Linked DNA regions of Homo sapiens: region 2 is linked to region 1. The links come from fine-mapping of genetic effects on gene expression. Tissue or cell type: whole blood. Region 1 holds a variant in brackets; the other region holds the start of a gene. All regions are shown on one strand. Distances are from middle to middle.

Region 1 (8,106 bases):
GATTTATAGGCATGAACCACAATGCCCAGCAAATTTTTGCCATTCTTTAATTGGGTGTATAAGCCTTTGAGGGTACAAGCATCAGTGATTATCTCATTTTCAACTCCCTACATTATGTAGGTCTATGCCTTTGCTTCCTCTTCTAGCATAATCATTTGTAACCTCTTATTTGTTAAAATCTGCAAACATTTCCTGACAAAATGGCGTTAGCACCTAACTGTCATTCTGACTTTCAGCTTTTACTCTTTTTGCCCACTGAGGACTTTTCTTATTTTCTTGAAAGCTCAGTAAGCATTTGATAGGATTTAATAAATATTTTATATAGCATTGCCAGGGTTTTATAGTTATGTGGGAGGGAGAATGGAAAGGTGGTTTAGTAATGGAAACCTTTCCCCAAATCCTTTTCTTTATTGAGATATAATAATTGATGAATCAGTACCAATAAATTTATTATTTGCTAAAGTCCATTGTTTACCATTAGCGTTCACTCTTTGTGTTGTATTTTCTGTGTTTTGACAAATATATAATGGCATGGATATACTATTATAGTATCATACAGAATAATACCTATTCATCCTCCACCTATTCATCCCTCTTTTCTTCCTGCTAAATAGCTAGCAACCACTGATTTTTTTTAACCATTTCCATGTTTTGTCTTTTCCTGAACATTATATAGTTGGAATCATACAAGACGTAGTCTTTTTAGATAGGCTTCTTTCGCATAGCAATATATATTTAAGGATCATCCATATATTTTTTGTGGCTTCATAGCTAATTTCTTTTTATTGTTGAATAATATTCCACTGTAAAGATGTACCACAGTCTGTTCATCCATTGACCTACTGAATGACATCTTGGTTGCTTCCAAGTTTGGATAGTTGTGAAAAAAAGCTGCTATAAACATTTGTGTGCAGTTTTCATCTCATTCAGTAGATACCAAGGACTGTGACTGCTGGATCATATGGTAAGAGCATGTTTAGTTTTGTAAGAAATTGCCAAACTGGATTCCAAAATGGTTGTACAATTTTGCATTCCCATCAGCCATAAATGAGACTTCTCATTGCTCCACATCCTTGCTAGCATTTGTGTTGCCAATATTTGGGATTTTAGCCATCCTAATAGGTATGCAGTTGTATCACACTGATGTTTTAATTTGCAATTCCCTAATGATAGATGATTGAACATCTTTTCATACACACATTTTCCATTTGCATGTCTTCTTTGGTGAGGAGTCTGCTCAGATTTTTGTCCACTGTTTGATTAGGTTGTTGTTTTCTTATTGTTGAGTTATAAACATTTTTGTATATTTTGGACACCAGTCCCATAACAGATACATGTTTTGCAAATATTTTCTTGCAGTCTATGGCTGGTTTTATTCTCTGAGCATTGGCTTTCACAAAAGCACAAGTTTTTAATTTTAGTGAAATACAACTTAGCTTTTTCTTTTATGCATCATGCTGTTGGTGGTGTTATCTAAAAAGTCATTGTCAAAGCTAAGGTCACCTAGATTTTCTTCTATATTATTTCTAGTATTTTTATAGTTTTTAATTTTATATTTAGGTCTATAATGTATTTGAGTTAATTGTTGTGAAAGGTGTAAAATCTATGTGTAGATTCATTTCTTTGCATGTGGATGTCTAATTTTTTTCAGCACTATTTGTTGAAAAGAATATCCTTTCTTTGTTTAATTGCCTTTGCTCCTTTGTCAAAGATCAATTGACTATATTTGTATGGGTTTATGTCTGGGCTCACTATTCCATTCCATTAGCCTATTTCTTTCTTTCTTTTTTTTGCCAATACCACACTTCTAATTATTATAGTTTTATATTAAGTCTTTTTTTTTTTAAGTTCCAGGGTACATGTGCAGGATGTGCAGGTTTGTTACATAGGTAAATAAACATGTGCCATGGTGGTCTGCTGCACCTATCAACCCATCAGGTAGGTATTAAGCCCCACATGCTTTAGCTCTTTTCCCTAATGCTCTCCCCCTATATTGAGCTTTGAAGCTGGGGAGTGTCAGTTCTCCAATTTTGTTCTCCTTCAATATTGTGTTGGCTATTTTGGGTCTTTTGCCTTTCTGTATAAACTGAAGAATCCGTTTTTTATACTTGCAAAATAACCTGCTGTGTTCTTTTTTTCAAAATTGTTTTGGATACTTTAGTTCATTTGCATTGCCAAATACATTTTAGAATTCGTTTTCTGATTTCTACGAAAATTTGTCTAGTATCTTTATGGAGATTGTTTTGAATCTATATATCAGTGAGGGAGAAAGGATATTTTAACAATATTTAGTTTTCCAATTCATGAACACAATATATCTTTTCACTTATTTATGTCTCCTTTGATTTCTTTTTTTCTTTGTAGTTTTTATCATAAAGGTATTGTAGATGTCTTGTTAGACACAATTTTGGACATTGACGTTGCTGAACTGACTTATTTTGCAGATTCTCTGTCAACAACCATGTCATCTGTGAATAGAGACAGCTTTCATTATGTCTTTCTCTCTCTCTCTTTTTTTTTTTTTTTTTTTTTCTGAAACGGAGTCTCGCACTGTCGCCTGGTCTGGAGCGCAGTGGCGCTATCTCGGCTCACTTCAATCTCCGCCTCCCAGGCTCAAGCGGTTCTCCTGCCTCAGCCTCCCGAGTACCTGGGATTACAGGTGCCCGCCACTACACCTGGCTAATTTTTTGTATTTTTAGTAGAGAGGGGTTTCTCTATGTTGGCCAGGCTGGTCTCAAACTCCTGACCTTGTGATCCACCTGCCTCGGCCTCCCAAAGTGCTGGGATTATAGGCGTGAGCCACTGCGCGCGGCCTCATTTATTTCTCTCTAATCTGTATCCCTTTTCTTCCTCCCTCTGCCCACCTTCTCTCTTTGTCACTCATTTCTTTCTTTTCTTTTTATTCCTTTTTTTCTTTTGGCATTATTTTACAGGCTAGACCTTCTGTATAATGTTGAATAAGAGTGGTGATAACAGATATTTTTGCCTTTTCTCAGTCTTAGGATAAAAAGATTTGGTCCATCATTATTAAATACACTATTTTAAGGTACTCTTAGAATATCTACTACTGCAGATTTTTTAAGGTATTCTTTTTCAGTTCAGAAAGGTTTCCTTCTATACATAGTTTCCAAGAGGTTTGGTAATAAATGGGTGTGGAATTTTTCTGCCTACTTTTGTATTTAACTTTTTTTTTTTTTTTGAGTCAAAGTCTCGCTCTGTTGCTCAGGCTGGAGTGCAGTGGCGCGATCTCGGCTCACTGCAAGCTCCGCCTCCCGGGTTCAGGCCATTCTCCTGTCTCCTGCCTCAGCCTCCCGAGTAGCTGGGACTACTGGCGCCTGCCACCACGCCCGGCTAATTTTTTGTATTTTTAATAGAGACAGGGTTTCACCATGTTAGCCAGGATGGTCTTAATCTCCTGACCTCCTGATCCGCCTGCCTTGGCCTCCCAAAGTGCTGGGATTATAGGCGTGAGCCACCACGACCAGCCGTATTAAACTTTTTTAAATGATTTCATTTTATCTTCACTATTGGCTTATCATTTATACATCTTTACAGTTTTTAAGTGGCTGCCCTAGAATTTTTTTTATTATTATTATACTTTAAGTTCTAGGGTACATGAGCAGAACGTGCAGTTTTGTTACATGGGTATACATGTTCTGTTTATGTGATGGATTATGGTTATTGATTTGCATATGTTGAACCAGCCTTGCATCCCAGGAATGAAGGTGACTTGACCGTGGTGGATAAGCTTTATGATGTGCTGCTGGATTTGGTTTGCCAGTATTTTATTGAGGATTTTTGCATTGATGTTCATCAGGGATATTGGCCTGAAATTTTCTTTTTTTGTTGTGTCTCTGCCAGGTTTTAGTATCAGAATGATGGTGGCCTCATAAAATGAGTTAGGGAGGATTCCCTCTTTTTCTATTGTTTGGAATAGTTTCAGAAGGAATGGTACCAGCTCCTCTTTGTACCTCTGGTAGAATTCGGCTATGAATCCATCTGGTTCTGGACTTTTTTTGGTTGGTAGGCTATTAATTAGTGCCTCAATTTCAGAACTTTTTATTGGTCTATTCAGGGATTCGACTTCTTCCTGGTTTAGACTTGGGAGGGTGTATGTGTCCAGGAATTTATCCATTTCTCCTAGATTTTCTAGTTTATTTGCATAGATGTGTTTACAGTATTCTCTGATGGTAGTTTGTATTTCTGTGGGATCGGTGGTGATATCCCCCATATCATTTTTTATTGCGTCTGTTTGATTCTTCTCTCTTTTCTTCTTTATTAGTCTGGCTAGCAGTCTATCTATTTTGTGGATCTTTTCAAAACACCA[G/C]CTCCTGGATGCATTGATTTTTTGAAGGGTTTTTTGTGTCTCTATTTCCTTCAGTTCTGCTCTGATCTTAGTTATTTCTTGTCTTCTGCTAGCTTTTGAATTTGTTTGCTCTTGCTTCTCTAGTTCTTTTAATTGTGATGTTAGACTGTCAATTTTAGATCTTTCTGGCATTTAGTGTTATAAATTTCCCTCTACACACTGCTTTAAATATGTCCCAGAGATTCTGGCATGTTGTGTCTTTGTTCTCATTGGTTTCAATAAACATCTTTATATCTGCCTTCATTTCGTTATTTACCCAGTAGTCATTCAGGAGCAAGTTGTTCAGTTTCCATGTAGTTTTGTGGTTTTGAGTGGGTTTCTTAATCCTGAGTTCTAATTTGATTGCACTGTGGTCTGAGAGGCTGTTTGTTATGATTTCCGTTCTTTTGCATTTGCTGAGGAGTGTTTTACTTCCAATTGTGTGGTCAATTTTAGAATAAGTGTGATGAGGTGCTGAGAAGAGTGTACATTCTCTTGATTTGCAGTGGAGAGTTTTGTAGATGTCCTTTAGGTCTGCTTGGTCCAGAGCTGAGTTGAAGTCCTGAATATCCTTGTTAATTTTCTGTCTCATTGATATGTCTAATATTGACAGTAGGGTATTAAAATCTCCCACTACTATTGTGTGGGAGTCTAAGTCTCTTTGTAGGTCTCTAAGAATTTGCTTTATGAATCTGGGTGCTCCTGTATTGGGTGCATATATATTTAGGATAGTTAGCTCTTCTTGTTGAATTGATCCCTTTACCATTATGTAATGCCGTTCTTTGTCTCTTTTGATCTTTGTTGATTTAAAGTCTGTTTTATCAGAGATTAGGATTGTGACTCCTGCTTTTTTTCTTTTTTCTTTTTTTTTGCTTTCCATTTGCTTGGTAAATATTCCTCCATCCCTTTATCCCTTTATTTTGAGTCTATGTGTGTCTTTGCACATGAGATGAGTCTCCTGAATACAGCACACTGATGGGTCTTGACTCTTTATCCAATTTGCCAGTCTGTGTCTTTTAATTGAGGCATTTTGCCCATTTACATTTAAGGTTAATATTGTTATGTGTGAATTTGATCCTGTCACTATGATGCTAGCTGGTTGTTTTGCCCCTTATCTGATGCAGTTTCTTCATAGTGTTGATGTTCTTTACAATTTGGCATGTTTTTGCAGTGGCTGGTACCAGTTGTTCCTTTCCATGTTTAGTGCTTCCTTCAGGAGCTCTTGAAAGGCAGGCCTGGTGGTGATAAAATCTCTCAGCATTTGCTTGTCTGTAAAGTATCTTATTTCTCCTTTGCTTATGAAGCTTAGTTTGGCTGGATATGAAATTCTGAGTTGAAAATTCTTTTCCTTAAAAATGTTGAATATTGGTTGGGCACAGTGGCTCACACCTGTAATCCCAGCACTTTGGGAGGCCGAGGTGTGCAGATCAGGAGGTCAGGAGATTGATACCATCCTGGCTAACGTGGTGAAACCCCATCTCTACTAAAAAAAATACAAAAAAAATTAGCCAGACATGGTGGTGGGTGCCTGTAGTCCCATGTACTCGGGAGGCTGAGGCAGGAGAATGGCATGAACCCAGGAGACGGAGCTTGCAGTGAGCAGAGATTGTGCCACCGCACTCCAGCCTGGGTGATAGAGCGAGACACCATCTCAAAAAAAAAAAAAAAAAAAAAAAGAATGTTCAATATTTCCCCCCACTCTCTTCTGGCTTGTAGGGTTTCTGCAAAGAGATCCACTGTTAGCCTGATGGGCTTCCCTTTGTGGGTAAACTGACCTTTCTCTCTGGCTGTTTTTTCCTTCATTTCAACCTTGGTGAATCTGATGATTATGTGTCTTGGAGTTGCTCTTCTCGAGGAGTATCTTTGTGGTATTCTCTGTATTTCCTGAATTTGAATGTTGGCCTGTCTTGCTCGGTTGGGGAAGTTCTCCTGGATAATATCCTGAAGAGTGTTTTCTAACTTGGTTCCATTTTCCCTGTCACTTTCAGGTACTTCAATCAAACATAGATTTGGTCTTTTCACATAGTCCCATATTTCTTGGAGGCTTTGTTCATTCCTTTTTATTCTTTTTTCTCTAATCTTGTCTTCTCGCTTTATTTCATTAAGTTGATCTTCAATCCCTGATATCCTTTCTTCCATTTGATCGATTCCGCTATTGATACTTGTGTATGCTTCACGAAGTTCTCGTGCTGTGTTTTTCAGCTCCATCAGGTCATTTATGTTCTTCTCTAAACTGATTATTCTAGTTAGCAGTTCATCTAAGCTTTTTTCAAGGTTCTTAGCTTTCTTGAATTGGGTTAGAACATGCTCCTTTAGCTCGGAGGAGTTTGTTATTACCCACCTTCTGAAGCCTACTTCTGTGAATTCCTCAAACTCATTCTCCATCCAGATTTGTTCCCTTGCTGGCAAGGAGTTATGATCCTTTGGAGGAGAAGAGGTGTTGTGGTTTTTGGAATTTTCAGCCTTTTAGTGCTGGTTTCTCCCCATCTTTTTGGATTTATCTACCTTTGGTCTTTGATGTTGGTGACTTTCGGTTGGAGTCTTTGAGTGGACATGCTACTCCTTTCTGTTTGTTAGTTTTCCTTCTAACAGTCAGGCCTCTCCGCTGCAGGTCTGCTGGAATTTGCTGGAGGTCCACTCCCGACACTGTTTGCCTGGGTATCACCAGTGGAGGCTCAGTTGGAAATGCAGAAATCACCCATCTTCTGTGTTGATCTCACTGGGAGCTGCAGACTGGAGCTGTTCCTATTTGGCCATCTTGCCAGCAATCTGCCCTAGGAGTTTTCATAAACACATTTATTTAATCACAGTCTACCTTCAAATAGTATTATGCCACTTATGTGTAGCGTAATAACTTCCCTAATTTCTCTCACTCTTTATGCAATTGTTATATGTTTTACTTTTACTTGTGCTCCAAACCCAGAGTAGGTTGCCTTTGTTTTTGCTTTAGACAGTAAATTATCTTCTAAAGTTATTAACAAGAAAAAATATTTTATATTTACTTTGACTTTAACAATTCCAAAAGATCTTTGCATAGATTCAAGTTTCTGTCTAGTATTACATTCCTTCCTCTTAAAGAACTTTCCTTTTTTTTTTTTTCTTTTTTTTTTTTTTGAGATGTAGTCTCACTCTGTCACCCAGGCTGGAGTGCAGTGGCGCGATCTTGGCTCACTGCAAGCTCTGCATCCTGGGTTCATGCCATTCTCCTGCCTCAGCCTCCCAAGTAGCTGGGACTACAGACACCAACCACCATGCCCTGCTAATCTTTTTTGTATTTTTAGTAGAGACAGGGTTTCACCGTGTTAGCCAGGATGGTCTCAATCTCCTGACCTAGTGATCCACCCACCTTGGCCTCTCAAAATGCTGGGATTACAGGCGTGAGCCACCACACCCAGCCAAGAACTTTCTTTAACATTTCTTGTGGCATAGGTCTGCTTAATTTCTCTTTCATTTTGAAAAGTATTTTCACTTGGTATAGAATTCCATGTTACTTTTTTTTTCTTTTAACATTTTAAAGATGTCACTCTATGTCTTAGTTTCTTGTGATGACTATGCTGTAAATTTAATTTTTTTCCTTTAGGTAATGTGTCTTTTTTGTCTGACTGTCTTCTAGATTTTCTCTTTATCTTTGGTTTTCAAATGTTTAAATAGGACACATCGTGTGTGTGTAGTGTGTGTGTGTGTGTTGGTATTTATATCACTATGATTCTCTGAGCTTCTTGGATCTGTGGTTTGATGTCTTTCATTATTTTTTGAAAATT
Region 2 (8,106 bases), 78 kb after region 1:
AACCCTAACCTTGGCCAGGCACGGTGGCTCATACCTGTGACCCCAGCACTTTGGGAGGCTGAGGTGGGCAGATCACCTGACGTCAGCAGTTCAAGACCAGCCTGGCCAACGTGGCAAAACCTTGTCTCTACTAAAAACACAAAAATTAGCTAGGTGTGGTGGCGTGTGCCAGTAGTCCCAGCTACTTGGGAGGCTGAAGCACAAGAATCGCTTGAACCCAGAAGGTGGAGGTTGCAGGGAGCCAAGATCATACCACTGCACTCCAACCAGGGCAACACAGTGAGATTCTGTCTCAAAAACAAAAAACAAAACAAAACTCAAAAAAACCCTAACCTCAAGGAATTCCCTTTCTTGTAGGTCCATTTAATTTTCCAAGGGTCTTATGACCCCTTGGAAAGGGATAGAATCTATTCAGTTATAAGATGAACATACCATTGATGATCATGTGAGCCAACTCATCAATGGGCTGATGCGAAAGCAATACAAAGGCAGCAGTGATGGGACCACAGGAGACGCCAAGGGAAGCAGAGCTCACCTGTGATCCAGCCGCAAGAAGTGCAGCTGCCATCTCCCAGTCTCCAGTGTTCCCCTCCTGGGGAATTGCAGGAACCCAGGGAGCAGACTGAGCTGATAAGGAGAGAGAAGAAACATTAGAGAATAACGATCTACCCTTTCTCAATGGGGCCTGGGCCCCATTTTAGAGAGGCTTAAGGGTCACAACTTCTGTATCTATGCCCATTGGTAAAACTCAAATGCATAAATGTAGATGAGAAGGCCATCACTCAAAATGTTCTGAAAGGGTATCAGATGGCTTTTAGTTAGACTAGCTATAGTTTGAATTTACAGTACTTGAATGTAATTTTCATCTAGTAAATTACATCTTACTGAGTGGGTTATCCAACAGTAATCAGGTTGCTGTCACTTCCTTCATCTCCCTCATTCAGTATCACTAATTATGCATTTGCATGTGGAGGGAGTAATTATGAAGAAACAAGAGAAGCCCAGTTGCATGGTTTGCTGAATTCAGGAGCCTATTCTGTACCTGTGACCAGGGCTGAGAAAGAATGGGCTGGTCCTGGTACAGGTTATGCTATTTAGTCCATGGCAATTTGGAGATTTTTAACCCTACTTTTGGAATAAATATTAGGAGACTATGCACTGTGCTTCCCACACACTCTGTGAGTTCTCACCCTTCTCCTGAAGGGACTGTGGCTCCTCTTCAAGGTCACAGCACAGGTGCTCCAGAGGTCCTGGTACTGTTCTCCATGGCCGCTCTTCCTGGCTTCCCCTTTCCACCTGGGGCTCTGCTCCATCCAGCTGTACATTCATTGATTCCCATCCTGTCCCCAGCGCTGCTGTCTGTTCTGAAAGCATTTCTGCTGCAGACCCAAATTGTGACCTGGAACAAATTCATATCAGCAATGCCCATGAAAATGGGAAAGGAGTGATATTTCTAAGGGAGTTATGAAGAACAGGCCCAGGGATAATAGACAAAACTAGATAGGAGGAGCTTGCTGGAAGATGAACTTTAAAAGCTTGATGTGTTCCGATCAACGGAGCCTGCACCAAGCTTCTTGGAGGAACTAAGAAATTGGCAGGTGCTACGTAGCAAAGCCACTAACTGGTATTTTGTGGACCTCATTATAGAAACAGAATATACCTGAAGGTTAGAAGAAGTTCATTTAAAAAAAAAGAACTGTCCTGGAAATTCAAAGGCTATCCATTTAATTTCAAGCACATGAAGTACAGGAAAGTAAGCAATTTGGAAACATACAGGAAGAAATACATATAGACCTGCACTCAACAAGATGGATGTAATCACACAGAAGATTTTCTGCCACAAATCACAGTCTCATCAGTTTAGAATGAAATGATTACTATAGGTAAAAGTCCCAACCAAGGGGCGTATTTGTATCATGAGGCTGGGCCAAAAGGTACCTCACTTGGGACAAGCCTCAATAAAAAGGCACTTGGTCTACCATCCAATGAAAACTGGTAGTAAATATGGTAGAAAAACTGATAACTTGGAAAGCAGGTGTTAAGACTCCAAAGTAATCCTAAGAGGTAAGAGAAATTGTTGGTCTGTGAGGAGCTGAAGTTTAATCAGGAAAAGTAAAAAGGAACAGAAAGAGTTTGAACCAGAGCTGGAAAAGGGGGGAAGAACTGCTGCTAACATGACCCAGAAGAACAAACCTGTTTATTTGTCAGGCACCAGTCAGATCTCATTAGAAAAATATATTCAGTTTGAAAGAAGCGTATGGTGAAGCCAGTGTGTGTTCATCAGAAAACATCAAAGTCAAGAAAGGGATTGGAAATACAGCCACTGGGAAAGTTAAAAATGTCGGATGTAGTTTTCTCTGTCTGGAGAAGAAGGCTGATGAATGATGCTACTAATGAATAAAAACAGAGGTCCCTTCTATCTCTATATAGGTCAAACAGAAAAAAATGGGTCTTGATTGCAAGAGAAGAGATTTAGGTTATTTTTTTTTAATTCTTAATAATCCTGCAGTGTACAATACCAGATAGTGGGCTCTTCTTTTTCTTTAGACAACTTAAGAGCAGGATGGGTCACACTTCTGTTGTGATAGGGCTTTATGGCAGAGAAATAATCTGAGACTCAGAATCTCTTTCTGTTTGGCAACATATTTTGGGTATTCTTATTCAATATCCAAACAGTCAGAGTCAGTGAAAGGCTTCCAAGAGCAGTCAGAAACTTGGTAACTATCCTGGCTTACTTACATCCTTTCAATAACACTTGCAAGAACCTTGAAGGCCAGGGTAGGTAATCACAGATGTCAAGTCGTCTATTTTCTTGCCTATTTGTCTTTGACAAAAGAGGTAGGTGGGAACCCTAAGCCCAATGCACAGGAAAAACAAATTCCCTTTTTATCTCAGAAGTCCAAAGATGGCTCAGGGCCTCATGGGAGCACCCTGGACTGATTCCCAGCCTAGGAGGTTTCCTTTTCAGAGACTTTTCATGAGAAAGGAAAATTCTTGCTAAAGCAATAAAGGGAAACTTCCATTTTAGCTCTCTTCTCTGAATTCCAGCTCTGTATCCACTTTTAACACACAGGGCACTAATTCTCCCTCTTCGTCCCATCTTTCTGGTTCTCTAGCTCCTGTGCAAATCCTCCCTGAAGGCTTTACCTCTAGCTACATATCTGGACACTTGTCTCAAACCCTTTCTCCATCTCCCCCAGGTAGCAGAGTCTCTTAATGGGAAGCCTCTTTGTGCAGAGCCCATTGGGCCAGCTGTAAGTTTTTCTATACCACTGACAGAAATCCGTGGAAGTGCTAGCAAAAATCTCAGCAAAGGATGGGATGGGTACCTGTCCTCAGCTTGCATTTCCTAAGATATTCACGCAGAGCCAGCACCTGGGCGGTTAAGGTGGTAGCCCTAACCTCGTTTCTCCTGGTTCCAGGATGATCCCATGCCCACTGCAGTGTGGGTTCTAGGGCTTTCATTTCCCCCTTTTCTTCACACATATGGGTAGCAAGGGACCTGCAAAAGGAAGTTTCTGCAGCCAGTGCTGATGAACAGAAAAGGGGCCATGTTATAAAAATGAGTAGCCCAAGGGCACACGGACGAGTTGGCTCCGTCCATCAGAGAACCCTGGCCCCTGCCACGGGTAGGGCATGGGCGGGACGGGAGCCTGCTCAGGGGTAAGGTTGCTTCTTCCCTTCTTCTTGTCACAGTGCCCCTGGAAAGGGTCAGATTTCAGAGAATCCGAGCAAGGCAGAACTGGAGCAGGGGAAGTGAGGTCAGAAAACAGGTTTCCCATGAGCTGGGGCATGAGCAAGTGAAGAGAAAGGGAGCCACGGGGTAACCTGTGCGCGAGTGACAGCGGCGGGAGCCCGCAGGGCCTGACAGTTGCGATGGGCACGGGGAGACAGGGCGAGAGGCGGGCACAGAATGTCAGCGGGGCAGACCCCCGGGAAAGGCAGCAACCCGGAAGACGCGCCGATCCTCCTCCCAGCCCCTATGGGTGACCGAGCCCCCACCAGCCGCCCCGGGAAGCCAGGCGTCCCTCCCTCCAGCCGCAGCTCCCTCCGGCCCGGCTCCACTCACCCCCGGTAGGCTTGGCCCGCGGCCCGGTGCCTCCCTCCCGGGCGCCGCCTGCCCCTCCCCTCCGCCCTCCGCTTGCGTCTGGGAGCCGGCGGCCGGCGGAGCCAGCGACAGGCGGAGACGGCGGCCCGGCAGGCGCGGGCGGGGCGGGGCGGGCACAGGAAATCCCCGCCCGCTTCCGGGGCTCTGCGGCGGCGGAGGTGCGGGGAGTGGGAGGGAGAGGAGTGGGAGGGAGAGGAGTGGGAGGGAGGGAGGGAGGGAGGGACGGGAGGGGGCGGGGCTGCGGCTCAGGCGCCCCCAAACGCGAACCCGGGACCTCCGCGCCCGCCGCTGTGGGGAGGGTGCGGCCCGAGACGCTTGGAGGGCGGCGGGCGCCGGAATCGCAGCCTGCTGTGGCCACTTGCCCGCACTCTTGCCTGACTGACCATTTTCCGCTCTGGCTACTGGGCCTCCCACGGAGTTCTGTCCTCAGGGTTCGTCAATTACCTGGAATTGCGTAACCGCCCGTTACAGGCCAGACCGAGGCCGAGAGCGATTTCTCCAGACAACAGTCTGGAATTCCTCAAGGAGCGTACCCTCTAGTTTTCACGATAGGATAAAGGGCTTGAGAGAGCACTGAGGAGGAGTCACTTATTCTGCCTGAGGGGAAGTCAGGTTGCTATCTGAAGTTGGCCTTGCGGCTGCTGTCCCATTTGCGGGAGCCGTAGCCGCAGGTGACACCTGAGCTCTCGAAATGTGGCTGGTCTGAATAGAGATGTGTTCCAAGATTTAGAAGATTTAATTTAAAAAGTGATATTTTGGGTATATTGGGTTAAATATATTAAAATTAATTTCACCTGGTTTTAACTTTTTAAATGTGGCTATAAATATGGCTTGCATTATATTTCTATTGGATAGTGCTACCTTGCAGCATTAAGATGGATTTGACTAGAAAAGATGAGAAGGGCCTACAAACAGTGAGTAAACCCATTGCTGTTAGAATCTGTTTATAACCTACAAGTCACATTCACATTCCTTATTTCATCATTACAACAATTTTCAAAAATTTTATTTAGTAGACTTAAAAAATAATTGACTCACTTAAGGTCATATGTGACAATCATTCGTTTAATGCATATTTATTTTCTACGTGTGCCAGACACTGTAACTAAATGCTGGGAGTTAAAGGATTCACAGTCTGGGGAAGCACATGTCAACAAATATTTGCAATAAAAACGTAGATTCTAAAACAGAGGAACGTACGCTGCACTTGAAGCAAAGAGAAGTGACCACGTATGGGACGGAGGTCAGAGAAGGCCCCCCACTCTGACAGAAATCGTGAGGCAGAGAAGAGTCAGGAGGGCTGTCTAATGAAAGAGGAAAATGCAGTAGACACGCAGTTGGGAAGAGTATAGAGCATATTCTAGGAGCAGATCATGGGATATGTCGGGGTAGTAGTAGAGCCAGAATTTTTATCCCGGGTCCTGGAACTAAGTCCAGGGGTTCTTTTCACTTATGCTACCACTGGTGGTAAATATAAGGTGCGTTAATTGGAGTAGGCTAGCAAAACCAGTATCTCGGGGCTTAACTCCATAAAGGCTTATGTTCATACAAGTCACAGTGTGGTAACAAGTTGGTTGGGGCCAGAGGGTGGGGTCTGTACTTCTTGAATTCATTGAAGGACCAGGCTTCTTGCATTTGGTGGTTCTCCCATGCCGAGGCCTTGGTAATGTAGTCAAATCTGTGGCCCTCAGATAAGGGAGGCTGGCCGTGGTTAACTTGTCAGAGATATTAGGGGCCAGTCCTGGAAGTGGTGTGTATCATTTTCACCCCATTCCCTTAGCCAGAACTCATGCGCATGGTCACATGGCCCTACCCAGAAGGGTGGCTGGGAAGTAAAGAATGTGTGCCTCATGGAAAAGGAAATGGGCGCTGCTGGACACAGCATTGCCTCGTCACACAGAGTTAAATTGAACATAACCAAGTACGTAAACCTGACTTTACCTGAAAAGAATGTTTGGAAAGAACTGATAGATATTATAATAGCCCAAACTCTCCTCGACTGTTTTGGGAAACAAATCAGTGTGAGATTGTTTCCAAAAAATAAAAAAAGCCAGGTGCAGTGTCTCATGCCTGTAATCCCAGCACTTTGGGAGGTAGAGGCGGGCGGATCACAAGGTCAGGAGTTCAAAACCAGCCTGGCCAACATAGTGAAACCCTGTCTCTAGCTGGGCATGGTGGTGCGTGCCTGTAGTCCCAGCTACTTGGGAGGCTGAGGCAGGAGAATCGCTTGAAACCAGGAGGTGGAAGTTGCAGTGAGCAGAGATCGTGCCACTAATACTCCAGCTTGGGCAACAGAATGAGACTTCGTCTCAAAAAAAAAAAAAAAAAAAGAGGCTGAATGGTATCATCTTCTTTATACCAGAACCTTTTCTTTTTAAAAATAACTTTTATAATTTTAAATTTGTGTAGTTACATAATAGGTGAATATCTTTATGGGGTACATGAGATATTTTGATGCAGGTATGCAATGCATGATAATCACATCATGGGAATCAGGTATCCATCCCCTCAAGCATTTATCCTTTGTGTTACAAACAATCCAATTATACCCTTTTAGTTACTTTAAAATGTACAGTTATTATTGACTATAATAACTATTAAATACTAGGTCTATTAAATACTAGGTTGTTCTATTAAATACTAGGTCTTATTCATGCATTCAAACTATTTTTTGTACCCATTAACCATCCTCACTGTCCCCATTCCCCCATTACCCTTCCCAGCCTCTGGTAACCATCCTTCTACTCTCTATCTCCATGGGTTGAATTGTTTTGATTTTTAGATCCTCCAAATAAGTGAGAACATGTGATGTTTGTCTTTCTGTGTCTGGCTTATTTCGCTTAACATAATGACTTCCAGTTCCATCCATGTTGTTGCAAATGACTAAATCTCATTCTTTTTTTATGGCTGAATAGTGCTCCATTGTGTGTAAGTACCATTTGTTCTTTATTCATTCATCTGTTAATGGACACTTAGATTGCTTCCAAATCTTGGCTATGGTGAACAGAGCTGCAACAAACATGGGAATGCAGATATCTCTTTGATAAACTGATTTCCTTTCTTTTAGGTATATACCCAGCAGTGGGATTGCTGGATCATATAGGAGCTCAATTTTTAGTTTTTTTGAGGAACCTCCAAACTGTTCTCCCTAGTAGTTATACTAATTTACATTCCCACTAGCAGTGTATGAGGGTTCCCTTTTCTCTACATCCTTACCAGCATTTGTTATTGCCTGCTTTTTGAATATAAGCCATTTTAACAGGAGTGAGATGATATCTCATTGGAGTTTTGATTTGCATTTCTCTGATGATCAGTAATATTGAGCACCTTCTCATATGTCTGTTTGCCATTTGTATGTATTCTTTTGAGAAATGTCTATTCAAATCTTTTGCCTATTTTTTAACCAGAGTATTAGATTTTTTCCTGTAGAGTTGCTTGAGATCCTTATATATTCTGGTTATTAATCTCTTATCAGATAAGTAGTTTGCAAATATTTTCTCCCATTCTGTGTGTTGTCTCTTCAATTTGTTGATTGCTTCTTTTGCTGTGCAGAAGCTTTTTAACTTGATGTGACCCCGTTTGTCCATTTTTGCTTTGGTCGTCCGTACTTGTACAGAACCTTGTCTTAAACATCACAAGGAATAAATTCAAAATGTCTTTATATTATGCTTTGGTGTGCCATCTCTTTAGTTATCAGTTAACAAACCCTGCAAGGTGTAGATCTGCATGGGTTCAGGGACATTAAGTGAGCCAAGAGGCACAATCAGGAATTGAGCCCTGGTCTGACTTCTCACTGGGTGCACCTTTAACCAGAGTGGTACTTTACCTTTTACAATGGACAAGTACAAACTCCTATGCAATGTTACAGCAGGGATTAATTAACTATGCATTGAGTAGCAGGCAGATGATTCCATCTTTTTCAGACTTTCTGATGGAGGAGTTTCAAGATCAGCTTTGAAGGTGAAATGTAGGAAGGGCATCCCATATAGAATCAGAAG

Evidence for each region. PIP is the estimated chance that this variant, and not a neighbour inherited with it, causes the effect.
Region 2: ZNF641 starts here. The variant in region 1 is fine-mapped to the expression of ZNF641 in whole blood (INTERVAL, PIP above 0.99).

What each region holds. Positions count from the first base shown.
Region 1 is chr12:48,268,732-48,276,837 of GRCh38, forward strand. No RefSeq gene overlaps it. Among named protein-coding and RNA genes, the nearest start is that of H1-7, 56 kb to the right of the region's middle. The variant G/C (reference allele first, on the strand shown) is at 4,328.
Region 2 is chr12:48,346,717-48,354,822 of GRCh38, forward strand. ZNF641 (zinc finger protein 641) reads right to left here and starts at 4,203. Exons shown (of 6, transcript NM_001172681.2): 1 at 4,070-4,203; 2 at 1,191-1,399; 3 at 536-627. The coding sequence starts at 1,374. RefSeq lists enhancers at 3,714-3,783, 4,222-4,958 and silencers at 3,924-4,353, 4,634-4,713.